Regions from separate parts of the Homo sapiens genome. Here regions 2 and 3 are each linked to region 1. The links come from fine-mapping of genetic effects on gene expression. A gene starts in region 1. Each other region holds a variant in brackets. All regions are shown on one strand. Distances are between the middles of the regions.

Region 1 (2,760 bases):
CGGTTTTGTATAGTTGGAAAACAACACTGATTTTGAGATCACTACAAGCAAATAAAACTTTTATTCCTCCCAATTATTTACCTGCTTTTCAAATTTTTATAAATTTTTATGACACAATTTCTTCAGTCTATTAAATATTCCAAAAAAGAGGCTAATACAGTTGTTATAAGAAACTCCGCAAATGCAGTCAAGTGTTACCTTGTCACTATAATTAAAGTTTTCTTATGCGAGTAAATGAAACAAACAATCCAGCCCCACACAGGGAAAGCCAGCATTGCCTTGGGGGCAGCAGAACGCGGCACAGCACCGCCCGCCAAGGCCGCAAGATGCCGCAGAATGACTGCTGCAGCAGCCGCTTCCTGGCCAGGTGGCCGTGGCCGTCCGCAGAAAGGCACACTGCAGCGCTCTCGCTATACCTTCCGTGCTGGCATTGCATCAGTGTTAAATCCCCTGGCCACCAACTGCCATATACTTTTTGCTGGTTATGAAGAAACGTGGGGAGGGGACAAAGGGGAGACAGAGTGTGCCTGCAAGTGTGAGAGATCACTATTGCCTCACACTCCCTAAAAAATTTCTCCCCCAAATGTTTATAAGCCAAGTACCAACTTACTTCATCTGCCAGGTCCCTAAATCTGAAATCGCCTTGCCCTTCAAATGCACTAAATGAGTCAGGGTTTTAGGGCAAACCCAGGGATACAAGAAGATCGAAAGTGCCCAATTCTTAGCTGCGAGATAAGCACCAAGTTTGGGGTGGAAGAGTTCACCTCTGCCGACCAGAGCGTACTACCCCGGAGCGCTCCTAGTTTAGAGAGGCTTGGAGAGGAGTGGGCCTCCCGTTCCTGGAGTATCCCAATTCCCAGGGAAGGCCCTTCCCGGCGCTCGCGCTTCAGAGTGCGAGGAAACCCCCACAAGCAATAGCTCACCCGGCTGCATTCTTCAAAGCCCCAACCTCGGGGCGGGGCGCAGGGAGGTGGGAGGTGGAGGGTAGCACCGCCGGGAGGCTCCTGTCAGCGCCTCTCGGTTTTCCCCCTGGCTCCTTGGCGCCCCCTGACGACGGGCTCCGCAGCAATTTGGCCGAGGGAGGCTGGATAGGCGGAAGCTCCGGGTGTCCGGGAAGCTAGAGGCACCCGGCCAATGCACCCGCGGACGGCGCGGACTGGCGGGCGGCCCCGCGGGAGGGCGCTGGGCTCTCAGGCCCGGGTGCAGCCCGCGGACGCCGCCGAAACCGCCGCAGCCATGTCCGCGCGCCCGCGCTGCCGCAGCCTGGCCGTGATGTCATCAGCCGAGCCCCCGCCGCGGCGCCCCATTCCCGCCCCCCGCAGGCTGCCGCGGCTGCAGCCTGAGCGCCGCGTCCCCGCCCCGACCCACGTGCGCCCGGCTTCTGGGATGCTGAGGTCGGCGGCGGCCGCAGGACGATGCGCGGGGCCCGGGCGGCCGCGGCGGCGGCGCTGCTCCTCCCCACTCGCCGCGTCCCCGGCGGGGCTGCGCCCGGGGGCTGCGCACGGACGGGGGCGGGGGCGCCTGGGGAGGGAGGGGAGAGGATCCCAGCCGCCGAGTCGCAGCCTCGTCGCTGTCTGCTGAGTCATGGCAAGCGCTCCCCGCAGCCCTGGATCACTCGCGTAGCGCGGCTGGCGCGGGGTGCGCAGCCATTGGGCTGGGCGCGGGGCCGCGAGCGCCAGGCATGACGCGCTGAGCCGCGCTCACCCGTGCCCGCCGTCCCGGCGTGCGCCCAGCGCGGGTGCCTGTGCCGCCGCCCTCCAGCCCCGCCGTCGAGTCGCCCTCGCCTCGCCCGCACCATGATCGCCGCGGCTTTCCTCGTCTTGCTGAGACCCTACAGCATCCAATGTGCCCTCTTCCTCTTGTTGCTTCTGCTGGGCACCATCGCCACCATCGTCTTCTTCTGCTGCTGGCACCGCAAGCTCCAGAAAGGGAGGCATCCGATGAAATCGGTCTTCTCGGGTCGTTCAAGAAGCCGAGGTAAGACACGCCGCGACGGGTTTCTGCGGGCTACCAGGAACAATTAAGCCGATTTGGAGAGTGAAGCGCGGCTCGCTCCCTTCTCCTCGGCTGCCCCTAGCCCCATCATTGCCCACTCCCCAGGCTGAGTGCGTTTCTTTAACGCCCCTTGCCCTTTTTGCCGTCACCTCCGCCCTCCAGTCTCCCAGGTTTGAATAACCACGGCGATGCCGAGGGCAGGGAGGGGAGGAAAGAACTCAAATTTTTAGTCAGTTTGCTAAAGCCTTAAGGGTAATTTGAGCGTAGTCCGGGGCTGCGCCAGCCTCGCCTTCACGCATCCTTCGCTGGAGCGTAGGGGTAAGAAAGTAAGGCATGGAAACTTCGGGGCTCCCCAACTCCCCCAGAACTTTCATGCAAACTTCTCGCGGAGAAATCACGTAGAGACCGATGGCCCCAGGACTCCTCCTCCCTCCCCCAGGATGTCCCACCGAATTCCAGGAGTCTGCGATGTGCTTTCCCAACCCTGGTCTCCCAGGTAAGTCATGAGTCACTCGGTAGGTGAAGAACAAGGAGTTAAATGAAGTCTCATTTATCTCTTTTCTCCCCAGATGCTGTTTTGAGATCGCACCACTTTCGTTCTGAGGTAATTTATTTAGCGCGCACGCTCAAGGTCAGAAGAAGTTCTCTTTCCTGAGTACCAATATTAATTATATGCGTGTTAAGAAACCAGTAGGACACTGAATGACGAACATGCTGTCCCCTAGCCGAAAGTGGCATGTTTCCTTTTAAGTGATTTCATATTAG
Region 2 (2,760 bases), 200 kb after region 1:
GATACACATTAGAGTTTAAAAAGGAAGAAGATTAAGCATCATTACACAGTGGGTCTTACTGGGGTTTAGTGGCTGATACACATGGAGAGACATACAAAAAATAAAGTAGTATTAAGAGATGCTGGAAACTAATTTTAAATAAGTTTTAAATAAGATACATTAAAAGGTGTATTTTAATAATTCATTCTCAAAGTTGTTTAATGTCCTTACCCATATTACCCCAAAACATGGCTTAATCATGTGGCATTTCTTAGCAGTTCATTCTATGGATTTGCTATTAAATTATTTGCCTCTAGGTACATATTTCAAAGTTAGATATGTGTCTTTGAATATATTTAGAAATGTTCAGACTTGTGCAATTTTCTTTTAAATTTGTGTTCTCTCAAAGTTATTTTCTTTTTTGCTTTTGGGGGACATGGAAGAACCAAAATATCCTTTATATGCTTTTATTTTTTGAGTGGGTATAAGGAGATAGAAATCCTATTATTTGTTAATTTAAAAAATAAAAGGATTTTGACATATGCAGTGCATACTCTATGGTTGGACCACAAAATGATTCTGTGAAACTATTAGATTCTTCAAGGACTCACTTTGCTTAGAGGACAAGAATGGCAGGTGGAAGGAGTGCTCTTTGCCTTGCCTAGAGTGTAGTGTCTTTGATGGGGAGTAGCTGTTTAATGAGAGGCTTTAGGACACATCCAGTCAGATTCACACGCGCCTCTGGAACTCTTTGTTTTCAGGCTGCAGTTCCTTGGCTGTGTCAGCATCTTTATTGTCTGAGCTCAGAAACCCCTTAGTGCACCAAACCAGGAAGGGAAACTGGCAGCATGCAAATGACTGACAAAGGGATTGTAATATATTAGAGGTCTCTGATAGTCATTAAAAATTTTGAATGGAAAAAAATATGCCAGCAGTTAATAATATCAAATAAATTAAAACTACAAAGTCATTCCTGTAGCTGTAAAATTAGTTTCTTGAGATAGACGTTTTTGCTACTTGTGGTTTTTGATTTATTTATTTATTTATTGGGATGGAGTCTCTCACTCTGTCACCCAGGCTGGAGTGCAGTGGTGCAATCATGGCTCACTGCAACCTCTGCCTCCCCGATTAAAGCAATTCTCCTTCCTCAGCCTCCTGAGTAGCTGGGACTACAGGCATGTGCCACCATGCCTGGCTAATTTTTTTTGTCTTTTTAATAGAGACAGGGTTTCACCATGTTGGCCAGGCTCTCCAACTCCTGACCTCAAGTGATCCGCCCACTTCGGCCTCCCAGAGTGCTGGGATTACAGGCGTGAGCCACTGCGCCTGGGCTGATTTATTTTTAAATATTGGGGTACATAAGTATTCTTTATAAATTTGCTGCAGTGACCCACAATAATAGTGGCTTTAAATGATCATTTGTATTTCCACTTATGTAGCAGTCGAGAGGTGGGGAGTGCAGGATGATAATGCAGCTCAGCTTCATGAGGTCAGCCAGGGCTGGTATGATGCTCAGGGTCAGGCGCTGTATGGGTTTTAAAACATGTGTGCAACTTCTTTGCTGCTTTTCCCATTGTGCACTCTGGTTGAATCTGGTTGGGCACCTGGCTCTCTTGTAACCAGTAGAATACCACATGACTTTCATGGTTATGTCAGGAAAGGTGATGCAGCCTCTGCCTTGC[T/G]GCTGGGTCCGTTGCTTTTAGAACCTTGAATTACCACAAAGTAGTTTGACTACCTTGAAGCTGCCATTCAGTGAGAAAGTCAGGCCACATGTAGATGACACCTGTGGCTGTTCTCGCTGACTGCTTCAAATGAGGTTCCAGCCAATAGTTAACATCAGCCACCAGCCATGTGAGTGAGGATGCCTCCAGATGATTCCAGTCCCCAGTGGTCAAGCCACCCAGCTGTTGAGTGTTACTAGCTGAGGCCCAGACATCATGGAACAGCAGCAACCTGCCCCCCTTGTACCTGGTTTGAATTTCTGACCTACAGAATTCTTGAACATAAAAAAATGGTTGGTTTTCATAGTTGAATTCCAGTGTAGTTTGTCACATAGTAACTGGAACAGGGACCCAGGTTCCTTTTGTCACATTGCTTTGCCATCTAGGTTGTTACTCTTACATGTTTTTTTAGATGTTTCACCACCACATCTGCATTCCAGCCATCTGGATTGAAGAAGTACAAAAAAAGGCACTGTATTCCCCTTCAAGGGCCCTCCTCAGAAGTAGCACAGTCACTTCTGTTCTCATCTCAATGGCCACAGCTGAACTGGAACATAGCCACATCTAGCTCAAGGAAGGCTGGGAAATGTGTATTTATTCCTTGTGTATTTGCACCTAGCTAATAATTAGAGAATTTGTTTCTTTGAGAAAGAAGGATACAAGGATATGGGGAAAAGTTTCTGCTACAGTTGTACGCGCTTGATTATACCAAGTTCTTTACTTTGTGCTGTATTAATGGTAGTTGTTTCTTTCCTGGGAAATTTTCCATTTCAAAGAGCTCTTAGTAGTAGGTTTGTTGGAAAGCATTGTATTTGTGGGTAGGATTAGGTTGGCTAATATTGGTTCTATTTTGCACATGAAAATGAAACAATAGTAACTTTAAGAGAAGGAAGTTTACTTTTCTCTTACTTGAGAGAAGTCCAGCAGGAGGCAGTCCAGGACTGGCATGGTTATAGCCACCATCCACAGAGGCTCCTTACTTCTTGTTCCTGCAGACTTAGGCTGCTGCTTTGTGGTCCTAGATGGCTGCTTGAGCCATATTCATCGGGTCTGTGTCCCC
Region 3 (2,760 bases), 190 kb after region 1:
GTTCAAGCTATTCTCCTGCCTCAGCCTCCCAAGTAGCTGGGATTACAGGCATGCACCACCATGCACAGGTAATTTTGGATTTTTAGTAGAGACGGGGTTTCTCCATGTTGGTCAGGCTGGTCTCAAACTCCTGACCTCGGGCGATCCACCCACCTCGGCCTCCCAAAGTGTTGGGATTACAGGCATGAGCCACTGTGCCCAGCCCCTTTGTTTTCATTTTTAAAGGCAGCAGGTTTTACTGTAAGAGTCCCATTTTACAGGTGTAGCAAAAACTAGCCTGGGAAAAATCCTGGTTCATCATTTCAAACCCTTATTATGTTGCAGCACTCAGGTAAATTGACTGAGGATGCCAACTTTTAGTTTATCCAGTAGTGAACCTGAGCCCCCAACTCTATGTGGATGCATGGAATGAAATAGGGCATCCCACACTCTGCGTTTTATTGTATTAGCAGGGTTTGAAATTAGGAGAAATTATGATCTTTATAAATTAAATTCAGCTGATTTTCAGCTTAACTAAATTATTTTTATTGAGTCACTGCCTTTTACAACTTGAAGATAACATTAGGTCCAAAAATTATATCATACTTTATGGCGTAACACCAATACCATGAGGCCTGGGAGTCAAACAGACCAAATGTTGAAAACCTGGCTGTACCATTTTTAAGTGGGACTTTTCATGATTTGTCTAACTTCTCTGTACCCCAGTTTCTTTACCAAATTAATGGTTTCCTGGTTACTATTGCATCATTAAACTCTCTTATCTGCTGTTTAGGAGTCTTATCTGCTGTTTAGACACTGATTAAGTTATAACACCAGAATGGATGCTCTGAAGGGCAGATTCATATGCAATGAGAACATATAGTGAGGCTTGACTGAAGGAAGTCAGCAAAGGAACATCAATAAATAACTCTTTAGCCAAAATTTTGATGTAACTGTATTGATTTCCTTACACATGAGTTTTGATATTTTATTTCTACTTTTAGTATCCTTTTCGTATGTGTTAACTCCATGTTGGAAGTGGGCAGAGTATGGATAATAAAGTAATAAGAGAATAAGCTTTTTGAGGACAGGAATACATTTTTTCTTTCCTTCTTTGTGAAACGGGGTCTCAACTTGCAACGCCACTTGCCCAGGCTGGAGTGCAGTGGCGTGATCTTGGCTCACTGCAGCCTTGACCTCCCGGGCTCAGGTGATTCTCCTGCCTCAGCCTCCTGAGTAGCTGGGACTACAGGTCCCTGCCACTACACGTGGCTAGTTTTTGTGTTTTTTTGTAGAGATGGGGTTTTGCCATGTTGCCCAGGCTGGTCCTGAATTCCTGGACTCAATCCACCCGCTTTGGCCTCTCAAAGTGTGAGGATTACAGACATGAGCCACCGTGCCTGACCAATTTTTTTTTAATAGACTTTTAGAGCAGTTTAAGTTTACAGAAAAATTAGGCAGAAAGTACAGAGTTCCCGCATCCTTCCTCTTCTCACATCATTTGGGTTAATGCCTTGAAGTGTAATTGCTGAATTATATGGTAAGACTATGTTTAGCTTTGTAAGAAACAACTCAAAGTAGCTGTATTGTTTTGCATTTCCACCATCAGTTAAAGAGAGTTTCTGTTGCTCCACCTCCTTGCCAGC[G/A]TCTGGTGTTGTAATCTTTTTAGATTTTAGCCATTCCAATAGATGTGTATAGTGGTGTCTCACGTTGTTTTAATTTGCAATTCTCTAATATGGTGTTGAGCATCTTTTTATATGCTTATTTGCCAACTGTATATTTCCTTTAGTAAACTGTCTGTTCAGATATTTTGCCCACTTTTAAACTGAGTTGTTTGCTTTCTTATGATTGATTTTTTAAGATTTCTTTGTATATTTTGGATACTAGTTCTTTATCATATATGTGATTTGCAAATATATGTGTATATTGCGATGGAGTCTCACTCTGTCACCAGGCTGGAGTGCAGTGGTGTGATCTTGGCTCACTGCAACCTCTGACTCTCTGGTTCCACTATGCCCTGCTAAGTTTTGTATTTTTAGTAGAGATGGGGTTTCACCATGTTGGCCAGGATGGTCTTGATCTCCTGACCTCTTGATCCGCCTGCCTTGACCTCCCAGAGTGCTGGGATTACAGGTGTGAGCCACCGTGCCCAGCCATGATTTGCAAATATTTTCTCTTAGTCTGTGGCTTATCTTTTCATTTTCTTAACAGTGTCTTTTGCAGAGTGGAGGTTTTTAATTTTAATGAATCCAACCTATGTTTTTTCTTTTATGGATCATGATGTTGGTATTGTATTTAAAAATTCATCATCAAATCCAGGGTCATCTAGATTTTCTTTTATGTTATCTTCCTAAAGTTTTATAGTTTTGAATTTTACATTTAGTCTGTGATTCATTTTGAGTTAAATTTTGTGAAAGGTATAAGGTCTGTGCCTAAATTTGTATATTTTTTGCATATAGATGTCCAGTTGTTCCAGTACCATTTGTTGAAAAGATTATCCATTCTCTGTTGAATTGCTTTTTCTTTTTTGTCAAAGATCACTTTACTAAATTTGTGTGGGTCTATTTCTGGGCCCTCTGTTATGTTCCTTTGGTCGACTTGACTTTTCTTTTGCCAAAACCACACTGTTTCGACAACTGTAGCTTTATAATAGGTATTGAAATTGGGTAGTATTAGTCATTCAACTTGTTATTTTCTGGGATTGTGTTGTCTATTCTAGGTTGGAATAATTTTTTATACCTTAGAAATAAGCACTTGGTAAATATTCTGTGTTGAGAAACT

Evidence for each region. PIP is the estimated chance that this variant, and not a neighbour inherited with it, causes the effect.
Region 2: its variant is the best candidate, but not a certain one, in a credible set for the expression of DST in whole blood (TOPMed, PIP 0.89).
Region 3: its variant is the best candidate, but not a certain one, in a credible set for the expression of DST in whole blood (INTERVAL, PIP 0.59).

Annotation. Positions count from the first base shown.
Region 1 is chr6:56,953,624-56,956,383 of GRCh38, reverse strand. It overlaps DST (dystonin), which reads left to right and starts at 1,554. Exons shown (of 104, transcript NM_001374736.1): 1 at 1,554-1,977; 2 at 2,565-2,599. The coding sequence starts at 1,797. BEND6 (BEN domain containing 6) reads right to left here and starts at 1,277. Exons shown (of 7, transcript NM_152731.3): 1 at 924-1,277. RefSeq lists a silencer at 1,089-1,778 and an enhancer at 1,940-2,571.
Region 2 is chr6:56,757,720-56,760,479 of GRCh38, reverse strand. The region is part of intron 4 of DST (dystonin); the gene reads left to right. Among named protein-coding and RNA genes, the nearest start is that of DST-AS1, 85 kb to the left of the region's middle. RefSeq lists an enhancer at 446-1,002 and a silencer at 2,684-2,733. The variant T/G (reference allele first, on the strand shown) is at 1,662.
Region 3 is chr6:56,768,163-56,770,922 of GRCh38, reverse strand. The region is part of intron 4 of DST (dystonin); the gene reads left to right. Among named protein-coding and RNA genes, the nearest start is that of DST-AS1, 74 kb to the left of the region's middle. The variant G/A (reference allele first, on the strand shown) is at 1,626.